5 separate regions of the Homo sapiens genome follow, and regions 2, 3, 4 and 5 are each linked to region 1. The links come from fine-mapping of genetic effects on gene expression. A gene starts in region 1. Each other region holds a variant in brackets. All regions are shown on one strand. Distances are from middle to middle.

Region 1 (5,000 bases):
ATCAGCCTGGGCACATAGCAAAAACATGTTTCTACAAAAAAAAAAAAAAAAATGCTGGGCATGGTGGCACGTGCCTGTGGTCCCAGCTACTCAAGAGGCTGAGGTGAGAGGATTGCTTGAGCCTGGGAGGTGCAGGTTGCAGTGAGTGGAGATCGCACCACTGCACTCTAGCCTGGGTGACAGAATGAGATCCTGTCTCAAAAAAAAAAAAAAGAAAAAAAGTAAGCAATCAGGAGATGGAAAAGCCCTTTGTCCAAGTAAACTGGGAGATCGCTAACTAGAAAACATAATTTAAAAGTTCAAGGCATAGGCAGGAGAGGAGATGGCAATGTTTTAGACAGAAGAAACTAATCCAGCAGTTTAACTTTAAAATACATTTTAAAACTTTTTTTCCTTTCTCTTGGGTTTCAAGATACAACCTTGAAGCAAACTGCAAAAGCCTTTTCCCTTAGCTGTAAAATAGACCCCATATCCCTCCCTTTCTCACTGTATATACTCCCTTCACATTTATCTTACTGTATGCTAGTATTTAATTATCTGCCTTCTGAGAAGTTCCAAGGGCTAATCTTGAGACAGACAAACCAAGCCTGGAGACACAGCTGCAAAATTCCAAAGATTACTTCAAGGTGGCTAGTCAACAGCGGGGCCATTGTGGAGATGAGACCAGCCCACGCTCCAGGTAGGCTGGGACCCAAGATAGCCACCAGAACAAGACACACAGACGTTGTACTCTGTACAATTCTTGCATGCTTCCCATATCAAATTTTCCTTTTAAGCCGTTCTCTTTCCCCCCAAAATCGAAGTGGTTACTTTAGATGGGAATCTGGCCACTTCCCCATTACTCCGCTCTCGGTTTTTTTGTTTGTTTTAGTTTGAGACAGGGTCTCACCTTGTCACCCGGGTTGGAGTGCAGTTGACAGCTCATTGCAGCTTGGACCTCCGGGGCCACAGCGATTCTCCTGCCTCGGCCTCTCAGTAGGTAGGACTACAGGCACGCACCACCACACCCGGCTAATATTTGTAATTTTTTGTAGAGACAGGGTTTCGCCATGTTGCCCAGGCTGGTCTCGGACTCCTGAGCTCAATCTCTTGTTAACTGGACTCTGCAAGCCGCAGGGAGAAACGTGCTTTCCTTAGAAAACTAGACTAGAGCATATTTACTGATGCTAAAGAGGTTGGTTTTGTATTTCCCTGGGCAAATAATTCTCTCTGAGCCTCCGTTTCTTCTAGAGATGATGTCCATCTTGCAGGATTGAGAACTGGTATAAGCTCCATTATGAAAAGTGACTGACACAAGCTTGGCAGAAAACGGGTATACTCCGTTTCTCTCCTTAATATCCTCCATGCCATTTGATTGCACAGCAGGGTAGGCGAGTGAGAACTTAGTGTTAGACTCTGTAAAGTATTTAAGATGTGCAGCGAGCTCTGCCTGTCTGAAGTTTTCAACGGACCGGAAAAGGATACTTTCAGGTGCTGAATTATTAAGAAACATATGGTGGGCCCCATTTCCATTTCCCCAGGCTTAAAGGACATGGACAAGCAGGTGAGCCCCGCCCCTGTCTCTCTTCCAGGGCGGAGCTTGGGTAGGCCCCGCCCTCTTGCTCGGTGGGGCGGGGCGAGGGCTGGAGGCGGGGTAGGTCCAGCGAGCGAGCGAGCGCCCAGCGCCTCGGGCTGAGTGAGGGAGGAGGTTCGGTGGAGAGGCTGCAAGTGGGCGAGGGCTGGGCGCAGCGACCTCATTGGAGCCGGCCGGTGGACGCCCCGGCGGAACCGCCCAGAGTTCCTGTCCTGCGCTACCTACCCGAACGCGCCTGCGCGCTGCGAACCCCGCCCCGGTGTCACCTGTTGGAGCCCCCCGCCCGCGTAGCCGTGCACATGCGCACTGCCGGCCGCCGGCCAGTGGGGTCACGTGTTGCGCGCGAGCCACCTCCCCTGCTGGCGCTTCCTGTCGCTACCGCTGCGGCCCAGGGCCCGCGGGAGCCCAGGGCGGTGCCGGGTGAGACAAGGCCGGGGTTTGGCTCGGATTCACCGCGAGGTATGCCGCGTCCCCGCCCCTCGGCGTGGGGAGTTCTGGGGACCGCGGGGGTAGATGGAGGCGGCGCGGGCGGGGCAGGGCGGCGCGTCCCGCAGCGCGGGAGTGGGGGTCCCGTGTCGCCTCCCCCTACGGACTCCGTTGCCCACCTTCCGTGAGGCCTGGCTGTGTCATCGGGGCCGCAGCCTTGGAGTGTCTGGCCTCGCTTTCACCTGAGCCGGAGTCACTCCCGAAATCTGACACTCAGAGTCCCCCGGAGCGCCCGCCAGCTCCTCCGCCCGCTCCCCGCCGCCTCCACGCCCGTCAGCTGGTCTCCCCGCCAGCGCTGTGGCGAGATGCGCCGGCTTCCTGCCTTTTCCCCCTACCTTCTGTGCACCTCCCCTTTGGTGCCAGAATGGGGTTTCTGAAACACCGATACGATCCCGCCACTTCTTTCCCAGCGCCCTCAGAATAATGCCCAAACGCTTTTCGGCTTAGAGGTTTTCATATTCTGCCGCTTGCTCACATTTCCACCTCGGCTTGTGCATTCAGGCCTCACCGCTTATGCCCCAGTCATACCAGGCCTCAGGTTCCATTGTACAGGCCAAGCTGCTCCCCACTTCAGAGCCGTCAAGTGTTCCCTCGTCTTGGAATCCTATTTCCCTCTTTCCCCCAACTTCTTTGCGTGACTCAGCTCAGGCGTCACCGCCTCGAAGGAGGAGCCTTTTCTCCCAGGGCTGAAGAAGGGGTCACCTCAGGGCACCCATGGCCCCTGGGGCAACCCCGTGTAGTCCACCTCCACCCTGTAAATGGTCATTGAAGGCTGAGACCGTCTTAGGTTCATTTCTGCGCTCCCAGTGCCCAGCGCAAGGTCTGACACAGGAGGTCCTGTGAATAACTGTGAGATCTTTATGGGAATCAGAATGCTGAGCCAGCTTTCTCCAGAGCTCAGCTGTGAGATGGAACTTTGATGACATGTCCTTGGATGATGAAAATGTTCTGTGTGTGTGCTGTCTGGTCATAGCCCCTCACCACATATGGCTGTTAAGCACTTGGAATGTGTCTGTTGTGGCTGATGGACTGGATTTTTAGCTTTATTTCATTTTAATTCATTGAAATTTAAAATTAAATAGCCAGCTGTGGCTTCCATAAGCACAGCTTTAGAGCCTTTCTGAATTCTACCCAGCCTTCCACCCACCCTGAACCTAGAGTACTTCCCTGAATGTGCTTTTTAAATTTGAGTCCGTTCAGAACATTCCTCAGTAAACCCATTAACAGGTGATCCCCATCCCTCCCATGGCCTGTGCTGCTTCAGTGCTTTAATTAAAGGTAACCCATACTTTGGTGTTCAGCATTGCCTTCTTTGGGAGTTTACTATCCACACCTTACCACGGGTAGCACTGTTGGGGGCGTGGCTTATGGGCTACTCCAGCCTGAATCTCTGTAACTCTTCCATAGGTATCTAGGCTGCCATGATGCCAGGGCCAAGACCTCGGAAGGGCCCTCAGGCCAGAGGCCAAGGGGTGGCCGCTGCCAAGCAGGTATGGAACTTAGCCTTCTAGGCTACTGGGTCGGTTTGGGGATGGGGGTCCCTAGACAACTTAGGCAAACTGGATCACATGTAGTTCCCCCATTAGTTCAGAGACTTGGAGCAGTGCCTCCTGGAGGTGGCAGAGCCCTTAGACACCCTCCTACTAGTCTCTTCCACATACAAGTGGGGAGAGGGTTCAGGAATCACCAAAGTTTAGGATGTTCTGATGGGACCTCAGTGCTCTCAAAGGTTCCTTAGATAGGGTCACAACTTTGCTTGTTAGCCAGGGATGCCAGGGCATGAGGGCTGTAGTCAGTGGGAGGACTTCACTGCCTAGGGACAGATGGCTGTGCCCCAAGTGGAAGAACAGGGGGGTCTCCTCTCCAATTTTCTTCCTTTATTTCTTCTGGGCCTACATCTTGAGACTTCTTAGTCCATTTTTACTGTCTTTAAAAAGGCAGGTAAGAAAGGAGGTGGGGTAAAGGGCATAGACTCAAGTCGCAAAGAGCTTGTTTTAAATTCTGATTGTCTCACAAGACTGTCTCAGTTTCATCTGAACATTGGGATAAAAACAGAATGTAAGCTGGGTGCCGTGGATCACGCCTGTAATCCCAGCACTTTGGGAGGCCGAGGTGGGTGGATCACCTGAGGTCAGGAGTTTGAGACCAGCCTGGCCAACATAGTGAAACCCCATCTCTACTAAAAATACAAAAATTAGCTGGGCGTGGTGGCATGTGCCTGTATTCCCAGCTTCTTGGGAGGCTGAGGCAGGAGAATCGCTTAGACCCGGGAGGCAGAGGTTGCAGTGAGCCAAGATAGTGCCACTGCACTCTAGCCTGGGCGACAGAGCCAGACTCTGTCTCAGAAAAAAAAAAAAAAAAGGATGTACCTCTACCTAGAGTAGTCATATTCATGGAAACAGAAGAATGGTGCTTACCAGAGGCTGGAAGGAGGGGAGGAAGGGGGGTTAATGTTTAATGGGTAGAAAGTTTGTTTCACAACATGAAAACAGTTCTGTGGATGGATGATGGCGATGGTAGCAGGATATTGTGAATGTCCTTATGCCATTGAACTCACCCTTAACAGTGGTTAAGATGGTAAATTTCATGTTGTATGTGTTTTACCAGAGTTTAAAAAAATAGGACCTTCTTTTTTTTTTTTTTTTTTGAGACGGAGTCTCGCTGTGTCGCCCAGGCTGGAGTGCAGTGGCGCCATCTTGGCTCACTGCAAGCTCCATCTCCCGGGTTCACGCCATTCTCCTGCCTCAGCCTCCCGAGTAGCTGGGACTACAGGCGCCCGCCACCGCGCCCGGCTAATTTTTTGCATTTTTTAGTAGAGACGGGGTTTCACCGTGTTAGCCAGGATGGTCTCCATCTCCTGACCTCGTGATCCACCCGCCTCGGCCTCCCAAAGTGCTGGGATTACAGGCGTGAGCCACCGCGCCTGGCCAAAAAATAGGAC
Region 2 (5,177 bases), 87 kb after region 1:
CGTCTCAAAAAAAAAAAAAAAGAAAAGAAAAGAAAAGAAAAATGATTGAAATGGAAGTAAAAGAAATAATAATAAAACGCACTTAAAACTTTTAACTCCTATTAAAAGAAGCAACATTCTATTAATACTAAAATAAAACCAAACTATGTATTGTAAGCCAAACGTGATTGAAGAACATAGTCCTCCACCTTTATATTTTAAAAAATCACATCATCGAAGGAAGTAATTACCAATGTAAGGCTAGAAGTAATTACAACAAAAGCCAATAATATAGCTTTATCTTCAGGTTGTGACCTAAAGGAAATATATTTTTATGTATATTTATTAAATTTAATATATGACCAAGAGATTCCAGCTATTTTAACTATAGTCCTTTCCAGGAAAAAATTCTAGATAATCAGCAACATGACTTTACTTGGCTTCATGCTGTAAAAATTAGTGAAAAGGATGGCTTTTCTGAACTACTTAGTTCCACTCCTTCACTTTAAGGCTATATGGAGAGTATGAACAGCAGAAACCATATGTAGTCAAAAACAATGTTTAATCCTTGACACTTTTACTCTTCATACCCCAACACAATGGGATCCCCAAAGGAACTGAAAAAGGACTCAAATAAAATTATGAATACCACCATGTAAATCAAAACAAATGTTAATCAAAAAAACAAAGACATCTTTATTTCACTTTGGGAATCCTTGCTTTATGTACCTAAATAGGACATTCCTCATGATGGTATATACTTCAAGAATCTAGGTTAGCTAATTTTTTTTTTTTTTTTAAACAGGGTCTCACTCTGTCATTCAGGCTGGAGTGCAGTGTCATGATCTCGGCTCACTGCAACCTCCGTCTCCTGGGCTCAAGAACTCCTCCCACCTCAGCCTCGAGAGTAGCTGGGACTACAGGAGCATGTCACCATGCCCAATTTTTTTTTTTTTTTTTTTTGGTAGGGATGAGGTTTCACCATGTTGCCCAGGCTAGTCTCGAACTCCTGGGCTCAAGTGATTCATCTGCCTTGGCCTCCCAAAGCACTGGGACTACAGGTGTGCACCATGGTGCCTGGTCTTAGGTTAGCTAATTTCTAAGCATAATTTATAAACTAGATATGGCAAATTGAAATTTCAAGCAAATTCATTTTAAATCTGATCCTAGAAGGTAGCAAGCATTAATAACTGGCCAAACATACAAGAGTGTGATTAGCAAGTAAGCCAGAAACCCACATTTCATCAATGTAGAACTTCTAAGGAAGTAGTATATGTTTCTGGTTTCCAAAATCAACTTAAGTACACATGGAGAACTGCAGGATGGTTCCCCAGAGGTTCTGTCCTTTAAAATTGCCTATTAACACTCATTCAGAATAAATGCATTCTCTAAATAATTCTCAAAATTACTAGCTGGCGCAGTGGCTCACATCTGTAATCCCAGCACTTTGGGAGACCAAGGCAGGCAGATCACTCGAGTTCAGGAGTTCAAGAACAACCTGGGCAACATGGTGAGACTCCTGTCTCTACAAAAAAATACAAAAAAAATTAGCCAGGTATGGTGGTGTGCACCTGTAGTCTCAGCTACTTGGGAGGCTGACGTGGGAGAACTGCTTGAGCTCAGGAGGCAGAGGTTGCAATGAACAGAGATCATGCCACTGCAATCCAGCCTGGGTGACAGAGTGAGACTCTGTCTCAAAAAATTCTCAAATACTGTCGTCTTTCTCATCCTGATGCCCATGATGCTAGCACCAACAATTGAGAAGTTTCTTCTGAATCTCAATTTATGATGTATTGAAGCTTTACTGTGTGTTAGTTAACACTTTTCCTAAATAAAGTTTTGCACCATAATTGAGGTTTCTGGGATTAAAACACAGCATGTAAATTATTTGAGTAGCCTGTATAATTTATCTACCACCAGTTATTCTGGTGGTAAGTTGTGATTTAACATACTCATCTCAAGAAGAACTTAACTCAGATAAGTTCAAGATTTGTTTGGCTTTCATCCATGGAGAATTCACCTACCTCACCCCTGTAACTAAATGTGAGAGTTTCGGTTAGTTCCACAGCTGTCCTCTGGGATATATCATTTTATAAAAACCAACTTTTTCAGAACTCAGTGTTCAGTAAGATGTGGCTAGGCCAGGCGCGGTGGCTCATGCCTGTAATCCCAGCACTTAGGGAGGCTGAGGCGGGCGGATCACCAGGTCAGGAGATCAAGACCATCCTGGCTAACACAGTGAAACCCTGTCTCTACTAAAAAAAAAACAAATACGAAAAATTAGCCGGGCGTGGTGGCGGGCACCTGTTGTCCCAGCTGCTCAGGCAGGAGGCTGAGGCAGGAGAATGGCGTGAACCCGGGAGGTGGAGCTTGCAGTGAGCCGAGATGGTGCCACTGCACTCCAGCCTGGGTGACACAGCGAGATTCTGTCTCAAAAAAAAAAAAAGAAAAAAAAAAAGATGTGGCTCTATATAAAAATACTTGTGTGTAATAAATCTGAAAGTTTTATGTACTATGAGTCAGTAAAACATCTGATTTTAATTTTTAAAAATTTATAACTTACAATTTACAATTTTAACCATTGACAACAAATTTGCATTTAAAACAAATACAAGTGGGTCAGGGCCACCATCCTCCAACTGCTGCATTACTGAAATCTGTGATGGTTTCTCTTCCACAGCATAGTCTGAAAGGGGAGAAAACAATGTAATAGATTGGTTAAAGGAACAAATCAAGAAAGAGATCAGATGGAGAAATGAGCTAATTATTCACAGAAAAGAGACATGCATTTGATTTATCAATAGGTGCATACAGAGCATGGTTTGTA[T/C]CTGCTGGCTCAGTATCAAATTAATAGTGCCCTCTTTTACTCTCAAAAGTGACCCAGTCCACCTTAGATGATAATGTGGTTATCCTGTGTATAGACCTCTCCCCACAGTGGTTTGTGCCACAATCTAAAGACTACCTTTCTATTTAATAAAAATTTTCCAACTATTATAACAAGAATTTCACATAATAAATGTTCAAGACCAGCATTTAAAATAACTCATGATATACAAGAAAGTGATAATATACTAGTTACCTCTGGAAAGGATATCAAATAGTTGGGGTAGAAGAGAGCCCTACCTTTTACTCTATGACCTTTTGTACTGTTTGACATTTTTGACAATTAAAAACTTAAACTTTAAAAAATGAACCCAGAAAATAAAAGTATTGTGTGTGACTGGCTTCATAAAACAATTCCTTTAAGTATAATTTAAGAGTTTAGTACATATGTCACTAAAATCATCAGTAAATCACACATAAGATTCTGAACATGAACAAGTTAATACTGAATGTAACTCTTCTCATTTAATCTCTGGAAGCACAGTATGTGCTTCAGCATCTCATTTTGAATGACAGTGGTCCTTTCAGCTTGAAGTCAAATCATGCGTAATAATCACTGTAGAACCTAGAGATATGGGAAAGGAACTGAAAACCTAAAAGTTGAATGTTGCTTGGTTGGTCTTATATAAAATGCATATTTGAGGGACAGTCAGGTAGAACAAAGTAACATCATTTCCCATTTTCTAATGGAAATTTTAAAATGGATTTTTTGGATACAATGGGAAATATCTACTCCATTATTAAAAATATTTATTGGAAAGAGAAATCCTGAGTTTAAAATTTTTTAAGTAAAGTCATCCCACTGGAATAAAAAATTACAAAATTTTGATGAAGAGACTGTAATATAGTTTAAGTAATATAGATAATTCACTGTTCTTTCTTGGTAGGAGAAGTTTTGACAATTAGATTTAACGGACATAACTTTTTATGAAAATGGAATCCAACAATCTGACTCTTTTTAACAACAGAGTAGGCCAATTTAGTTCCCTGTTAATCTAAGATTTATTAAAATAAAAATCTGAACCCTAAGCAGCAATTTTACTAACAATAGATATTTTTACAATAGATAATTTTACTAACAATAGGTATTTTACTAACAATAGAATCCAACAATCTGACTCTTTTTAACAACAGAGTAGGCCAATTTAGTTCCTTATTAATCTAAGATTTATTAAAATAAAAATCTGAACCCTAAGCAGCAATTTTACTAACAGTAGATATTTTTACAGGGTCCTGGTAAAGAAGCAAAAGCATTATGCAGTCAAAAGAATGCTTAACTGTATGTGAAAGTTCACTGCTGAACTATCTGGGACATAGCTGCATTTGAGAGTACAATATAGACAGCATTTGCTGAGAGCCTACTACAGGCCTAGCACCATGCAAGGAGCAGTAAATGCAAGTATAAAATAAGATGAAGAATTTCATAGTCTAAGTGAAAGAATACGATCTGAAAATATAATATCTAAATTGCAATGAGAAAAAGTGTTAATGTAGCCAACAGTCTATAGGAACCACTATTAGAACAGAGATAATGAAGCAAATCACTATTTTCTAAGCAGCCCAGGTAAGGATTCAGAGAAGAATTAACCATTAAGCTGGATTTTAAAAGGTTGAGGAGTTCTTCAGGAAGTCTACAGTAGAGAGGGGTATTCTAGGCAGAAGAAAGGAAGAAATGGAAAATATTAATTACATGCCTACTTTATGCCAGATACTTTCTTGGTATGTACTTACAGGTATGATATCTAACTTAATAACCACAATGACTTTTAAGTAGGTGTAGTTATATAATTGTTTTAAATAAAACAGACTAGGAAACAAATTCAGAGAGGATGAATGACTTGCCAACTGGATCACACAGCTAGAATGGAACGGTACTGGCATTAAAAGTCAGGTTTGTTCAATTCTGAAGTCCATTCTTTCCCATTATTCCACAGCACAAGAAAAAGTACAGAAGAATGAAAAGTAAATATTCAAAAAATAGCAAATAATCTGCAGTATACATGTAAGGTGCTGGGGAATAGCTGGAAATAAAGTTGATAATAAATGGCTAGAAAGACAGGCTGAGATAAGGTTATAAGAAACATTGTCAGACCGGGCATGGTAGCTCACGCCTGTAATCCCAGCACTTTGGGAGGCCGAGGTGGGCAAATCACCAGGTCAAGAGTTCAAGACCAGCCTGGTCAACATAGTGAAACCCTGTCTCTACTAAAAATACAACAATTAGCCGGGCATGGTGGCATGCACCTGTAGTCCCAGCTACTCAGGAGACTGAGGCAGGAGAACTGCTTGAACCCGGGAGGCGGAGGTTGTGGTGA
Region 3 (5,177 bases), 210 kb before region 1:
TGAAGGGTGTTTAATATTGACTGAAGCACAGAGTATGGGACGCAAGAAGAAACAGAGCTTGTTGGAGGTCAGTTCATTTAGGACTTTGTGGTCATGCTGGAGTATTCACAGATCCTCTGGGCCTGGCTTTGTTCTCAGTATGAGGAATACATAGAATCGAATCAGATCTTAATGCTCTTTAATCCAAGGCCTTAAATAGCTCACAATCAGGTAGGATAGACACATTTTGACAATGGTAGTGCAGCATGATAAATATGATAATAAAGAACTGATTTTCATGGGAATTTATAGGAGTGATAATTAAGAAATAACATTATTCCATCAATTGCCTTTTAAGTTATTTCACATTGCTTCCAAATTCTTACTAAACAAGCCAATTGTAAGACTAAGTTTAGATTAATGTTACTTTTAGACACACAGAAAAATGATTTAGCCATTTAGGCTAAAAAGCAATTTCTATTACAGTTCTTGCTCTTGCTTTTTGCCTCTATACTACATCTTTCTTTTTCTTTTTTTTTTTTTTTTTGAGATGGAGTCTCACTCTGTGGTCCAGGTTGGAGTGTAGTGGTGTGATCTCGGCTCACTACAACCTCTGCCTCCCAGCTTCAAGCAATTCTCGTGCCTCAGCCTCCTGAGTAGCTGGGACTACAGGCATGTGCCACCACGCCCGGCTAATTTTTGTATTTTTCATAGAGATGGGATTTTACCACGTTGGCCAGGCTGGTCTCGAACTCCTGACTTCAGTGATCCGTCCACCTCGGCCTCCCAAAGTGTTGGGATTATAGGCATAAGCCACTGCGCCTGGCTAATACTACTTCTTTCTTTTCAACTCTCACTTATCCTTTAAGACTCTGGTGAGCTTTCCCCCTTCCACTTTACCTCAAGTAGAGTTAGAAATCTTTCCCTCTATGTCCCTGAAGGACCCTGGGATCTCTATTATAGCACTTATCACAATATACTACAAGTGTTTATTTTCCTGTATCCCCTCTAGGCTTTTATTTCCCCCAATAGAGTTCTGTATTTTTTTATTTTTTAAGAAAAAGGGTCTTGCTCTATTGCCCAGACTGGGGTGCAGGGGCACAATCATAGCTTACTGTAATTACTCATGGGCTCAAGAGATCCTCCCACCTCAGCCCCCTGAATAGCTAAGACTACAACCACACACCACCATGCCAGCTAATTTATTTATTTTTGTAGAGATGGGGTCTTGCTATGTTGCCCAGGCTGGTCTTGAACCTTTGGCCTCAAGTGATCCTCTTGCCTGGGCCTCCCAAAGCACTGGGATTATAGGAATGAATAGTGCCTGGCCTCCCACTAGACTTAAGCATAGAGATTTTGTCTTGCTCATGCTTCAATCTGTCATTCGATAAATATGTGTCAGGTACCTACTATATGCCAGACATCAGGCTAGGTGCTGCAGATTCAGTGACGACCTGGATAGACTCAGTTCTTGCTCTTGTAGAGCTTATAGTCTAGTGCAGAAGGTTGACAAGCAAATGGGCAAGAAGAGTATGTATGAAAAATGTTATGATGAGGAAAGTGTCAAGTGCCATGGGAAGCCCAGAGCAGGTGTACCTAACTTTCTTTAGGGGGCAAATGGAAGTCTTTCAGAAGGAAGCAATTTAAGCTGAGAATTGAAGAAAAAGTACAAGTTAGTTAGTCAATGTGGCAGTCATGGGTCAGAGGTGGGAGAGAGCACAACACATTCCAGAAACTGAAAGAGGACTGGGCACGGTGGCTCATGCCTATAATCCCAACACTTTGGGAGGCTGAAGTGGGAGGATTGCTTGAGTCCAGGAGTTTGAGACCAGCCTGGGCAACATAGCTAGATTTTATCTCTCCAAAAACATATTAAAAATTAGCCAGGTGTGATGATGGGCACCTGAAGTCCTACGTACTCAGGCTGGAGGCTGGAGGCTGAGGCAGGAGGCTCATTTGAGCCCAGGAGTTCCAGGCTACAGTGAACTATGATCATGCCACTACTCTCCAACCTGAGTGACAGGGTGAGACCCTGTCTCCAGCAAAACAAAACAAAGAAATTCACAGAGCAGTCGAGGTTAGGGGCAAGCAGTGAAGATTGTGTGAAGTGGGGTGTGGCCGGGGTGAGGAAAACAGAGATTGGTGTTTAGTGTGATAATTATACACATAGAAAACTCTATGTAAAGTGTTTGTTAAATGAATGGATGAGCCATTCCAAAACCTGAGAAAGAAAGACATTTGGGAAAAGCAAATTTGTTTGTGATTGTTCATTCCTTTGTTCACTGGGAGGCATTGTAGTGTGTTGGCTAAAAGTCTGGACTCACACCAACTGCTTGGGTTTGAATCCTGGCTTTGACAGTTAATAGCTGAGTGACCTTAGACAAATTACATAACTTTTCTATGTGCCATTTTCCTCATCTGTAAGAGAGAAATGATAATAATTCATAGAATTGTCATGAAGATTAAACAAGTTAATAATATTT[G/A]TAAAGCACTTGGAATAATGCCTAGAATTAAGCACTGACTGTTTGCTATTATTATTCCTCCATTCATTGAAACATTTATTGAGGGCCAAGTACCATGCTAGGTGCTGTGAAAATATGTGGCTTCAGCCATGGAGGAGGACCATAAAATCTGGTGAGGGAGAAGATTCATAAATAAGCAATTACAACACAATGTGATCAAGTGAGGCGATAGTGGTAAATCCTGCAGAACTGAACAAGACAGAGTGACTCATTCTCTCCAAAGAAGCCAAGGGAAGCTTCAGAGAGAAGAATGTATTTAAGTTGGGTGACGCAGAATGAACAGAGTTTGGCAGCAGACAAAAGCAGTATGGTTTATCAGGCCAAGGAAGCACCATGTTGCAAAGGTTTAGTAGGATGCAAGTCTAAGGCATGTTTAGGAAATGGCAAGGGGGTCTTGAGCACCTGTTATGTGCCAGGGTCTGTGCTAGGCACTTTTTATATGTTCTTTCACTTTCCATAAGAACTTAAGAGGTGAGAATTATGGTCTACATTTTTTATGAGAAGGTGATCTGAAAGATTGAGAGACTTGCTCAAGATCGTGGAAAGCAGTGGGTCTAAATTTGAATCCAAATCTATGTGACTCTAAGGTCTGTGTTCTTTGAGGAAAGGATGGGGCCTGACAATGACCTTGTGAAGTTTTTAGTGTAGCTAAAAGTACAATACTTTTATTTATTCCTTTATTTTTTAGAGTGAGGGTCTTACGCTATTTCCCAGGCTGGAGTGCAGTGGCGCAGTCATAGCTCACTGCAGCCTCAAACTCCTGGGCTCAAGCGAGCCTCCTATCTCATCCTCCCGAGTAGCTACGACTATAGGCATGCATCACCATGCCCAGCTAATTTTTAATATTTTTTTGTAGAGACAGAATCTTGTTTTGCTGCCTAGGCTTGTGTTGAACTCCTGGCCTCAAGCAATCCTTCCTCCTTGGCCTTCCAAAGTGCTGGGATTACAGGTGTGAGCCACCACTCCCGGCCCAATATTTTTATTTTAAATTTTAATAATGTTGGATGGCAATCTTGTTAAGTAGGCACTTGGTATTTCTCAGTCGTCATAAATGGAAAAAACTGACCTTAAATTAAACTTTTTTTTTTTCAATATTCAGTTTCTTTTAATGATCCCCATCTCCTTAAAGAACAGGTACAGGAAGCAAGGCAATGGCAAGAGCTGTTTACTTGAAGATCTTGCCCTGACTGAAGTTAGCCCACATGCTGGAAGGCCCTTTTCCAGGAACAGTACTCACAAACCAGTGTCTGGGTCTCCTTGCTGCCAGGATCCAGTTTCTGCCACGTGTATGACTCGAAGACCACCTGCCAATCTGGACTCAGTGTCAAGGCCTGTGAAGACCCAGGCTCCAGAAATGGAGCTGATATTGTTGCTTCCAAAGAGGATGGCACTGGCAAAGGCATTCTTTCTCAGTTTGTTCAACTGCTGGAACATTCCAGCGATGAGATTGCAACTCCAGAAGGTCTGGGTGAGCTTCTCAGGAAAGCAATACTCAGACCAACCATCCTTATCAGAGTGCTCCCGAAAATACGGCAGCACCACATTGTGTCCTTATAGGAGTACTTGTGCTTAAATTCATCCATCACAAAGGTACTCGGGCAAGTGAGCAAAGGGGTCTTGGCTATCCGATGCTCAGCAGCCAGTGCCTGCTCACATTCATCCATCTCCTCAGGAGCAGGGTCAGCCGCCTTTTTCTCCTTTCTGTTCAGCCTAGGGCTTCTGCTTTTCTTCCCGTGAACTTTTCTCCTGTGGGGTGTCCTTTTTAGGCCTGCTCTCTGCAAATATTTTAGCATCAAATAGGGCCATTTTCTCCTATCATTTTACTTCCCCCAAGACAGCCTGGAACTGGGGCTGGTTAATGCAGGTGAGAAAGTTAGTATCATGACCACTATTTGTGATTCTGTGATGTTCTGTGTTAATATCCTGAGGGTTTGTTAGGGGATTTCCCTTTTATACGTGTGTTTCCCAAATTGTCTTTTGAGGAGCCCTGGGGTGCCCTAGCTAACTGAGGGCTCTAGAGGATATTTTGACATTTTAGGAGAAATACAAGCTGGGCGCAGTGCCTCATGCCTGTAATCCCAGCACTTTGGGAGACCCAGGAGGGTGCATCACTTGAGGCTAGGAGTTCCAGACCAGCCTAGACAACAAGGCAAAATCCCGTCTCTACAAAAATCAGTTGGGCATGTTGGCGCACACCTGTAACTCCAGCTACTTGGGAGGCCAAGGCATGAGAATGGTTTGAACCTAGAAGGTAGAGGTTGTAGTGAGCTGTAATCGCGCCACTGCACTCCAGCCTGGGTGAGACAGCGAGACTCCATGTTAAAGAGAGAGGGAGAAGGGAGAGGGGAGAAGGGAGAGGGGAGAGGGGAGAGGGAGATTCAATATATGTCTGATACCACACAAGCTTGAGTTCAAGGTTTAAACATGTCTCTGGATGATGTCATGTCTTTTTGAAGCTGAGTTTTCAGAGGTTGCTGTAATAAAAAGCAAGTACCAAGTGAAAATCACTGTGGAACAATAAATGACTGTAGCAGCATACGATGAGATCCCAAAGTTTGAGAAGGGAATTGCTAAACAGGCACATACATCCCTTAGCACATAATTATGAATATTTAAGAATAAAAACTGGCTGGGCACAGTGGCTCATGCCTGTAATCCCAGCAATTCTGTTACCAG
Region 4 (5,177 bases), 30 kb after region 1:
ATGTTCTCTGCAGTAATCTGGACCATAACACCATCTAAGAATCAGTACAAAGCCAAAGGAGAGGCAAATGAAACACAGCACCTGGCATCTAGCAAATTCCTCCGAGTTAAATGTAAACCTTAGCTCTGCTTTCCAAAGCTGACTGATACAGAGGTTTTGCTCTTTGAGCTGAACCTCTTACTGAAAGTGTTGTGAGAAGCAATGCCAAGATTAAAACACATGCTTGTTGATTTCACTTCAGACACAACTAAGAATTTCTCCTGAGACTACTTAAGGGGAAAACTTAAACACAGTCACATTCTTCTTCTGGACACACTGAATATTTTGTTCCTGTTTTCACTCCTGCATTTATCATCCTCTGGTCATATTCATTTGTTTGCATCTCCATCTCTCTCACCTTACTATGACTGCCTGGCATACAGTGAATGCCCAATAAATGTTTGCTAAATAAATCACTGAATAAATTATAGTAGTGGGCTTGGAGATAAATCCATTTATTGACTAGCAAATAAGGCAAACCTACCACAGAGTTTCATATGGGCTACCAGATAACCAACAGATGGTAACTTTTTCAGCTGCTACCTACCTGAGTTGAAGGCAAACACTGAAATTGACAGTAAAAGTTGTCACATGCTGAGCAATTACTCTGCTTCACTGACACACAATGAAATAATTTCTAAAGAGTCTCAATAACAATTTCATAGTCAGCCAATCGCTCCACTGAAACACACAAGTGAAATGCAAGACCCAAGAAATTCCCAAGCCAGACACATAAACACATAATTTTTAAACACACTGCTTTGAATTGGTAAGGATCTGTGTCAGGTCAATTTATCTTTTTTTTTTTTTTTTTTTTTTAAGAGATGACTGCCCAGGTTGGAGCGCAGTGACTATTCACAGGGACGATCATAATGCACTGCAGCCTCAAGCTCCTGGCCTCACAGGGTCCTCCCACCTCAGCCTCCCAAGTAGCTGGTACTATAGGTGTATGCCACCATGCCCAGCTCATTTTATCATTTAACAACATTTAAGGGGTGTTTTAAAATCACCTTGTGAAGTCACAATTTCAACTATAGTCAACACTTCATCATATAGGCTTTAACTAGTTGCTTTAGACCAAATGACTGTTTAACTCCTAGATTAATTAAGCTGGGTGTGGTGGTTCACACCTGTAATCCCAGCACTTCGGGAGGCTGAGCCTGGTGGATCATTTGAGGTCAGGAGTTCAAGACCAGCCTGACCAACATGGTGGAACCCCATCTCTACTAAAAATACAAAAAAATTAGCTGGGCGTGTTGGCGCACAACTGTAATTTCAGCTACTCAGGAGACTGAGGCAGGAGAATCACTTGAGGTAGAAGTTGCAGTGAGCCAAGATTGTGCCACTGTACTCCAGCCTGGGCTACAAGCCTCCATCTTAAAAAAAAAAAAAAAAAAACAAAAAAAACCTCTTAGATTTCATAACAATTTGTTAACGGCATGTTTCTGTTTTGTAGTCAAGAGTTGTAAATTTTAGTTGTAAAATATTAGTGCACTCTGTGTTTCACTCACTGTTTTATTAAATTTACCAAAAGAAGACCAAAGCTAGTATCTATAAATATATGTAAGATTATCTACGTATTTCAATCAACACACTGGAATCCAGCCCTAAGAAAGGACCTTTTTTTTTTTTAAAGATAGAGTCTCACTCTGTCGCCCAGGCTGGAGTACAATGGCACAATCTCAGCTCACTGCAACCTCTGCTTCCCAGGTTCAAGTGATTCTCCTGCCTCAGCCTCCCAAGTAGCTGGGATTACAGGCATGCGCCACCACGCTTGGCTGTTTTTTGTATTTTTAGTTGAGATGGGGTTTCACCATGTCGGCCAGGCTGGTCTCCAACTCCTGACCTCAAGTGATCTGCCCCCCTCGGCCTCCCAAAGTGCTGAGATTACAGGCGTGAGCCACCGCACCCGGCCTAAGAAAGGACTGTTTTTACACAGAGCTTTGGAGTGAGCTACTGTAAAAATGAAAACCTGTCATCATGTGAGGCAGACTACATTTTCCATAAATGGTCATATCTCCCATCTCATTTTTCTACAATGCTATCTTCCCATTCTCCCATGTAGAAGTGAAGTCTAATTTCCCTCCCTTTTTCCAACACCAGAGTATGGTGGAAATGACACAATATAACTTTAAAGGGTGGGTCACAAAAGGCAATGCAGCTTCCACCTTCTTGCTAGAACATTCATGTTTGGAGTCCTGAACCACCATGTAAAAAGTCCAGCTATCCCAATGGTATCAAGCCATGTTAAGGAGTCCCCACGTAAGTACCCCAGTCACCACTCCTAGTCTTTAAATCATCCCAGGCCAGGCCTCAGACGTGTGTGTGAACAAACCTTCATATAATTCTAGCTCCCAGTCATCAGATAACTTCAAGT[G/C]ATCCCAACTAAGACTCCAAACATCATGAAGCAGTGTTAAGCCATCCCTGCATTGCCCTGTCAAGATTACTGATCTAGAGGATAAGCAAGCATGATAAAATGGTTGTTTTAAGCCATCTGTTATGAAATAAGAGTAGCAAAATCAAAACACAATGAATAACCAACAAAGAAAATAAACGGTGTGCCAATTAGCTTTTAGTTTAATTAACTTTTGTCAACATATGTGTCATGTCTAATTATAGCACACTAGCAGCAAGCACATGCCATTTTGTACTCCAAATGATGACCACAGCATTCTTGTGGACAGGACTTTCATCTACACATTTAGATATTAATATTTCCACCCAATGATATATTTGAACTCAGACTACATGCCCTCAGGTACCTTATCCCAGAGCTCTGAAAGGCCATCTCCTAGTTTTAATGTCATTGTCACATGGTATCCCTACCACTTACTCCTTTCTTCAGAGAACTAAGCACTCTCATGGCAGTTTTAATTTGCTGAAGAGATGCTACTGAAAAAACAGTAGGAGTCAGACATCTACAGCAGAAGTGTAAAGGATTCCCTTTATGTACATAAGTTCAGTCCTTATTATGAGGACTGAACAATTCATTCTTTACCTTCCACAATACTGGACTTGGCAAGGTATCCAGAAGAGGATTTCAGAGCGCCACTGAACACAAAGAAACTGGCACCAGTCACTAAAACAGCAATAGAAATAGTTTAGTAAGACAGACCCTAAGCTGGAGGGATTGAAAATAATAACAAAATATTCAGAAGTTGAGAATTCCGACCATCATCACACAGAAAATTTTAAAAAATCAAATCTATATTCCACAATAAACATGTAACCAACAATTCTGATGCTTACAACAGCTTTGGGAACTAGGTTTTAAGATACACTCCCCCATTTTGTTTTGTTCTTCCTCTAATTAAGAATCCAAGTATCTTACAAGAAAAGGAATCTTAATGGTTGAGGTCAGGGGGTTGGCAAGCTATAGCCTGCCTGGCCTCCAGCCTGCTTTTGTAAATAAAATTTTATTGAAACACAGCCATGTCCATTCATTTACTTATTGTCTATGGCAGTTTTTGCACTATAATACTAGAGCCGAATAGTTGTTGACAAAAACCACAGCTTGCAAAGTCTAAAATATTTATCATTTGGCCCTTCACAAAAAAAGTTTGCCACCCCCAATCTAATCCATTGATTTTCAGATTTTTTTAGATCAAATATATTCTGAAGATAGAAATATGGTTGCCAACTATTTTATCTGCTAAGTTTTTTTTTTTTTTTTTGAGACGGAGTCTCGCTCTGTCACCCAGGCTGACGTGCAGCGGTGCTATCTCTGCTCACTGCAAGCTCCACCTCCTGGGTTCACGCCATTCTCCTGCCTCAGCCTCCCGAGTAGCTGGGACTACAGGCATGTGCCAGCATGCCCCGCTAACTTTTTTGTATTTTTAGTAAAGATGAAGTTTCACCACGTTGGTCAGGCTGGTCTTGAACTCCTGACCTTAGGTGATCCACCCACCTCGGCCTCCCAAAGTGTTGGGATTACAGGCGTGAGCCACCATGCCCTGCTTTTTTTTTTTTTTTTTTAAGAGACAGGGTCTTGCTATGTTGCCCAGGCTTGTCTTGAACGCCTTAGCTCAAATGATGCTCTCGCCTTGGCCTCCCAAAGTGCTGGGATTACAGGCATGAGCCACCGCGGCTGGCCTAACACGGGGTTTCTTAGATTAAATCTATTAAACAAGACTTATTTTTTCATGTGAAGTTTTTAACACCATGGTGCCTGAGAAAACACTTTGGGTAACGCCTCTTGAGCAATGCTTCTCAAAGTCGAATGTGCACTTGAATCACACAGAGATCTCGTTAAAATGCAAATTTTGATTAGTGAATCTGGGGTGTGGAGACCACATTCTGAATAGCACTGAAACCTCCTTCAGAATCCTGTCAAGTTAATTAGCATTCTGTGGGAATGGTCATCCAACAAGCTTCAAATTTACCTAAACATACTCTCATTATGGGGCCTAGTCGTGCCTTCAAATGCCAGAGCTGGCCCTTGTCAATATCCTAAGGGCATATTTTTTTTTTTTTTTTTAATTATTATACTTTAAGTTCTAGGGTACATGTGCACAACATGCAGGTTTGTTACATACGTATACACATGCCATGTTAGTTTTGCTGCACCCATCAACTCGTCATTTACATTAGGTATTTCTCCTAATGCTATCCCTCCCTCCTAAGGGCATATTTTCAAAATTGTTCCCTCAATAACACATATCCCATTTGCAACTCTGAGTCTGGCCACTTGGGGAGTCAACATAATCCTGAAGAATATGGTTGGAAAGGTTAATTAATTTGTTTGTGGTCACCTATCTAGAAAGTGAGTGTTACGGGACTGAGGTATCTAACTGTCCAAGTCCAGTATAATTTTCCATTATCATAATCTCAACCAGCTCAAATGCTCACCTTTTCTGGGCTGATTGTGAATACTGATAGCCTGGGTCTGATAGTTTCCATCATCATTCTGTACACACACAAGATGAGAGTCTGCCTTTTCATTGAAGCAGGCACCTCCTGCCAGGACATGCTCATTGGACTTGTTCATGGCTTTCATCATCTGCAATCAAAGAGATAACCTTATTCTGACAAGAATGGGCATTTTTCTGTCTGACATGGTGCAACTCCATCTTCTCAAAAACAAAACTAACAGAATATTACGTATTAAAGTGACAAAAAGGGCCACCAAATAATGAAAC
Region 5 (5,000 bases), 530 kb after region 1:
TGTAGTGAGCTACAGTCACACCACTGCACTCCAGCCTGGGTGACAGAGTTTGTTTGAGACCCTGTCTCAAACAAAACTTTATTTGGAGAAAAAAGCTGTTAAACTGTTAAATACACTTTGACTCTTGTTCTATTATATATAGTCTTTGTATTAAAGATTAAAATAAAAGTCAACACCTTTTGGGTTTTATTAATTTTATTAATTATGTATTCTCTGTTGACTCATTATGACTTTTTTTTTTTTTTTTTAAGAGATATGGTCTTGCCATGGTGCCTAGGCTGGAGTGCTGTGGTGCAATTGGCCATCAATTGCATGAATGCATGGCTCAGTGCAACCTCAGCCTCCCAGGCTGAATGTGCCACCGCTCCCAGCTAATTTTTAAATTTTTTTGTAGAATTGGGAGTCTCTCTGTATTGCCCAGGCTGGTTTCAAACTCCTGGCCTCAAGTGATCCTCCTGCCTCAGCCTCTCAAAGTGCTGGGATTATAGGTGTGAGCCACTTTGCCCAGCCACTTAAAAAACAGAATTTAGTAGAAAATATGGAGAAACAGAGAAGCAAAAAAGGGATAAGATTGCCTCCAACTTTATAATCTAGAGATAACCACCATTAATGTTTTGGTATAGACCCATCTATATTTTTTAAAGTATACCGATCATATTGTTCATACCCTTTTATAATTGTTAATTTTAAGCAAGATATATCATTTTAACTTACATAATTTATAAAACATGATTTTTAGTGATTGTATGTTATTTACATTGTATAGAAGTACCATAAGGTGTTTAATCAGTTACATATGATTGGACAGTTGAGTTGTTTCCAGTTTTCTAATACTGTGATGATTATCCTGATCTCTGTGAATATCCTTAATTATTTCTATTAAGTTCTAAGCAGTGAAATTGCTGAGTATATTTGCAAATATATTTTTAAGACTTTTTTTTTCTTTAAGCTTTTGAAATTCATTGCAAAATTGTTTTCCAGAAAGTTTGTCAGTACAATAGTAGAAGTTTGAGATTACAGGGTTGCAGACCAAAGTCTACCCCGGAAAAAAGTAGAAAAGTAGAAAAAAGTTATACCTAATTCTAGATATATGCAAGATTGAAATGTAAAAGAAAAAAGAAACCTCACGTTTGTCTAGTATAATGTAAGCTCCTTCAGAGCAGGAATTTTTATCTATTTTTTGTTGATACATCTGCAAATCAATAATTTGGTAGATACTCAGATTTGTTAAATGAATTAATGCAGTTCCTTTATAGCAAAAATTACCATAAAATCAAAAGATAAATGACCAAAAAAAATTTTTTTTAAACATGATAGAGATCTAATATTTTTTTTAAAAATTGGCCTGGTGTGGTGGCTCACACCTGTAATCCCAACACTTTGGGGGGCCGAGGTGGGCGGATAACTTGAGGCCAGGAGTTCGAGACCAGCCTGGCCAACACGGTGAAACCCTGTCTCTACTAAAAACACAAAAATTAGCTGGGCTTGGTAGCATGTGCGTGTAATTTCAGCTACTTGGGAGGCTGAGACAGGAGAATTGCTTGAACCTAGGAGGCGGAGGTTGCAGTGAGCTGAGATCATGCCATAGCACTCCAGCCTGAGTGACAGAGTGGGACTCTGTCTCAAAAACAAAATAAAATAAAAAAGATAAAATAAAAAGAAATTATCTCTTTTCTTAAGAGATTAATTTGATCTGGAAAAATCCTTTGGACATATTCCTATAAATTGGAAGCATATGCCACTATTTATTTATTTTTTTTTTGGAGACAGTCTCACTCTGTTGCCCAGGCTGGAGTGCAGTGATGTGATCTCGGCTGACTGCAGCCTCATGCCTATAATTCCAGCACTTTGGGAGGCCAAGGTGTGTGGATCACTTGAGCCCAGGAATTCGAGACCAGCCTGGCCAACATGGTGAAACCCCATCTCTACTAAAAATACAAAAATTAGCTGGGTGTGGTGGCGCAGGCCTGTAATCCCAGCTGCTTGGGAGGCTGAGGCACGAGAATTGCTTGAACCTGGGAGACGGAGGTTGCAGTGAGCTGAGATCGCACCACTGTACTCCAGCCTGGGTGATGGACCGAGACCCTGTCTCAAAAAAAAAAAAAAGAAAGATAAATCAATGAAGGCAATGCAAATGATGCCTGAGATGATCTTTCCTATAAATTTAGACAGGATCAGCAATACCTTCAGAGGAGACTTTAACCATACAACTTTGAAGAAAACTGCATCTTTACTCTTGTTACAGAGTTCTCAGCTCTTAAGTTTTACAGAATCCAAACAGGTCTTTGTATGTGTGAAGAAATCTTAAGCAGAAGACAAGTTGAATTTTTACAACTTTATATTTAGCTTTGTCCATATACAAAGAAGGAAAAATAACTGATTTTATTGGGAAAAAGGATAGGCAAATGGTATGTATGATATGAATACATTCTGGCCATCTCAGAGATGATGAAATTTGGTATAAAATGTAGTTAAGAAATTTGTTT[TG/G]TTTCCTTTTAAAGAGTTGTTCTAAATATGTTTTGTACAAGGACTGCTTCAGCATCTAAGAATATCACCTTACACATTTATTTTTATTTAAAAAGAAAGCCACCCAATAAGAAAGCCACTGCATTAATAGGATAAATTAATGAGAATATCAAATCATAAATTTATGCCATAAGTAGAGCATTATAGGGTGCAAATACTATAATAAATGCTATAATATTATACTTCTACAATGTATAAGGAAAAGCCTTTATACGTGTGTAATATGCTCTTATATAACATGGATTAAGTACCTGTTTTTAATAGGTTAGCAAAATCTGATTCCCTCACACAGGCCACATTGTTTATAAGTATCTTTTAAATAAACAGCTGAGGAAATGACTAAATTTTTACTCCAGTTAAGTAAGTGAGCATGGAAGCCGTCTTTACCATGGTGGCGTCTTCTATTTTCAGTAAATTTGAACTTTATTTTATCAGTATTTCATGGTAAGAGTGACAAATATCAAAGCTTAGGATGTCCACTTCTAACAGGAGACCCTCCCCATTATAAGCGGGAATACAAAATCTTCACTTTCAGGTTGTGAAAAAGGATGAGGCGTCCTGAGTAGTTATAGCCTAGATTCCAAGTGCCTGAGTATTCTGGGGAACCCCAAGTCTTGATTGTAGCTTCATGGGCAGAACTGGTAGTGTTCCCAGGAGCCTGGGAGAAGCAAACATAAGGCATCTCAAAAGGAAGATGCCTTCCTTCTAGGCCCTAAATTGTTACAAATATTTTTTCAAGTAAAATAACCAACATTCAGTCAAAAATAAGCAGGTACTCAGGAAAATAATACAACATGATTGAGAACAGATAACACAAACAGATTCTGAGACATCTCAAGTACTGGCATAGTTACACACAATTTCTAAAATAATTATACTTTCTATTTTTTAAGAAATAAAGGCCAGACGCAGTGGCTCATGCCTGTAATCTCAGCACTTTGGGAGGCCGAGGCGGGTGGATCACGAGGTCAGGAGTTTGAAACCAGCCTGGCTAATATGGTGAAACCCCATATCTACTAAAAATACAAAAATTAGCCGGGTCCGGTGGCGGGTGCCTGTAGCCCCAGCTACTTGGGAGGCTGAGGCAGGAGAATCGCTTGAACGTGGGAGGCAGAGCTTGCAGTGAGCCGAGATAGTGCCACTGCACTCTAGCCTGGGTGACAGAGCGAGACTCTGTCACAAAAAAAAAAAAAAAAAGAAATAAAAGACAAATTTGAATATACTTGCAAGGAATAAGAAACTGTCAAATATGACCTAGGAAATTTGTAAAATGAAAAGATACATCTTGAACTGAACTATGATAAAAAAAATTGAAAATGTCATGGACAAGTTTAAGAGTAAATAGAGTTGAAGATAGAATTAGTAAGCCAGAAGATAAGACAGAAGGAATTAACCCAAGTATAGCATAAAGAACATATATAACCCAAATATAGCATATAGCACAAAATTAAAAATACAAAGAATATGAAGCATAGAGGATAGAATGAAAACATCCCATGTATTTTACTTGTAGTTGTAGAAGGAGGAGAGAGAAAATTGAAGTAGAGACAACAGTTGAAGGGTTGATCACTGGAAAATTTTCAGAACCTGTTGTAAGACATCAAATCAGAGGTTAAAGTCTAATAACTTCCAAAAGGATACATTAGAAGAAATATGGAAAATTTTTGCCAGATAAAGAGAAAATTTTCTTCAAAGGAAGATGAGTTACACTTACAGATGACTACTCAACTTCGTGCTCTGAAGGAAAATAACTACCAACTAATAACTAGAATCATAAATTGTACACTAAATAAAAATATCTTTTAAGAATGTTAGTAGGCTGGGCATGGTGACTCATGCCTATAATCCCAGCACTTTGGAAGGCCAAGGCAGGTGGATCACTTGAGCCCAGCAGCTGGAGACCAGTCTGGGTAACATGGTGAGGGAAAAAAATTAGCAGGGCATGATGGTACATGCCTGTAGCCTCAGCTACTTGGGATGCTGAGGTGGGAGGATCACCTGAGCCTGGGGAGTTCAAGGCTCCAGTGAGCCGTGATGTGCCACTACACACTCCAGTCTGGGTGACAGAATTAAATAAAATTAGTTTCATTATTTAAGTCAACAGAAATTATCCAACCCATCATTAATCATACCAAGTACTGAAAAGAAAAAAAATGCCCCAATATATCTAGCAGGTAGTTAAGTTAAAAGTTACCTTATTGCAAGCAAAAGTTAAAAGTTTTTTAAAGAAGCCTGAGCAATATAGGGAGACCCTGTCTCTATAAAAAATTTAAAGATTTAAAAAAAAATGGTAGTGCACACCTCTAGTCTCAGCTACTTCGGAGGTTGAGGCAGGAGGATTGCTTGAACCCGGCAGTTTGAGGCCGCAGTGAGCAGTGATTGTGCCACTGCATTCTAGCCTGAGTGATAGAGTGAGACACTATATCCAAAAAAAAAAAAAAAAAGTTTACTAAACATTTTAGGAAATTAATTTT

Evidence for each region. PIP is the estimated chance that this variant, and not a neighbour inherited with it, causes the effect.
Region 2: its variant is the best candidate, but not a certain one, in a credible set for the expression of CC2D1B in T cells (TOPMed, PIP 0.64).
Region 3: its variant is the best candidate, but not a certain one, in a credible set for the expression of CC2D1B in testis (GTEx, PIP 0.82).
Region 4: its variant is the best candidate, but not a certain one, in a credible set for the expression of CC2D1B in whole blood (INTERVAL, PIP 0.87).
Region 5: its variant is the best candidate, but not a certain one, in a credible set for the expression of CC2D1B in whole blood (TOPMed, PIP 0.54).

Annotation. Positions count from the first base shown.
Region 1 is chr1:52,363,101-52,368,100 of GRCh38, reverse strand. CC2D1B (coiled-coil and C2 domain containing 1B) reads left to right here and starts at 1,896. Exons shown (of 25, transcript NM_001330585.2): 1 at 1,896-2,032; 2 at 3,467-3,549. The coding sequence starts at 3,481. RefSeq lists silencers at 1,517-2,146, 2,187-2,296.
Region 2 is chr1:52,275,980-52,281,156 of GRCh38, reverse strand. ZFYVE9 (zinc finger FYVE-type containing 9) reads right to left here. Exons shown (of 19, transcript NM_004799.4): 9 at 2,543-2,665. Among named protein-coding and RNA genes, the nearest start is that of CC2D1B, 88 kb to the left of the region's middle. The variant T/C (reference allele first, on the strand shown) is at 2,807.
Region 3 is chr1:52,572,311-52,577,487 of GRCh38, reverse strand. It overlaps the pseudogene EEF1GP7. Among named protein-coding and RNA genes, the nearest start is that of TUT4, 22 kb to the right of the region's middle. The variant G/A (reference allele first, on the strand shown) is at 2,463.
Region 4 is chr1:52,332,629-52,337,805 of GRCh38, reverse strand. It overlaps ZFYVE9 (zinc finger FYVE-type containing 9), which reads right to left. Exons shown (of 19, transcript NM_004799.4): 14 at 4,888-5,038; 15 at 3,038-3,118; 16 at 1-34. Among named protein-coding and RNA genes, the nearest start is that of CC2D1B, 31 kb to the left of the region's middle. The variant G/C (reference allele first, on the strand shown) is at 2,417.
Region 5 is chr1:51,828,689-51,833,688 of GRCh38, reverse strand. The region is part of intron 4 of NRDC (nardilysin convertase); the gene reads left to right. Among named protein-coding and RNA genes, the nearest start is that of MIR761, 5.2 kb to the left of the region's middle. The variant TG/G (reference allele first, on the strand shown) is at 2,487.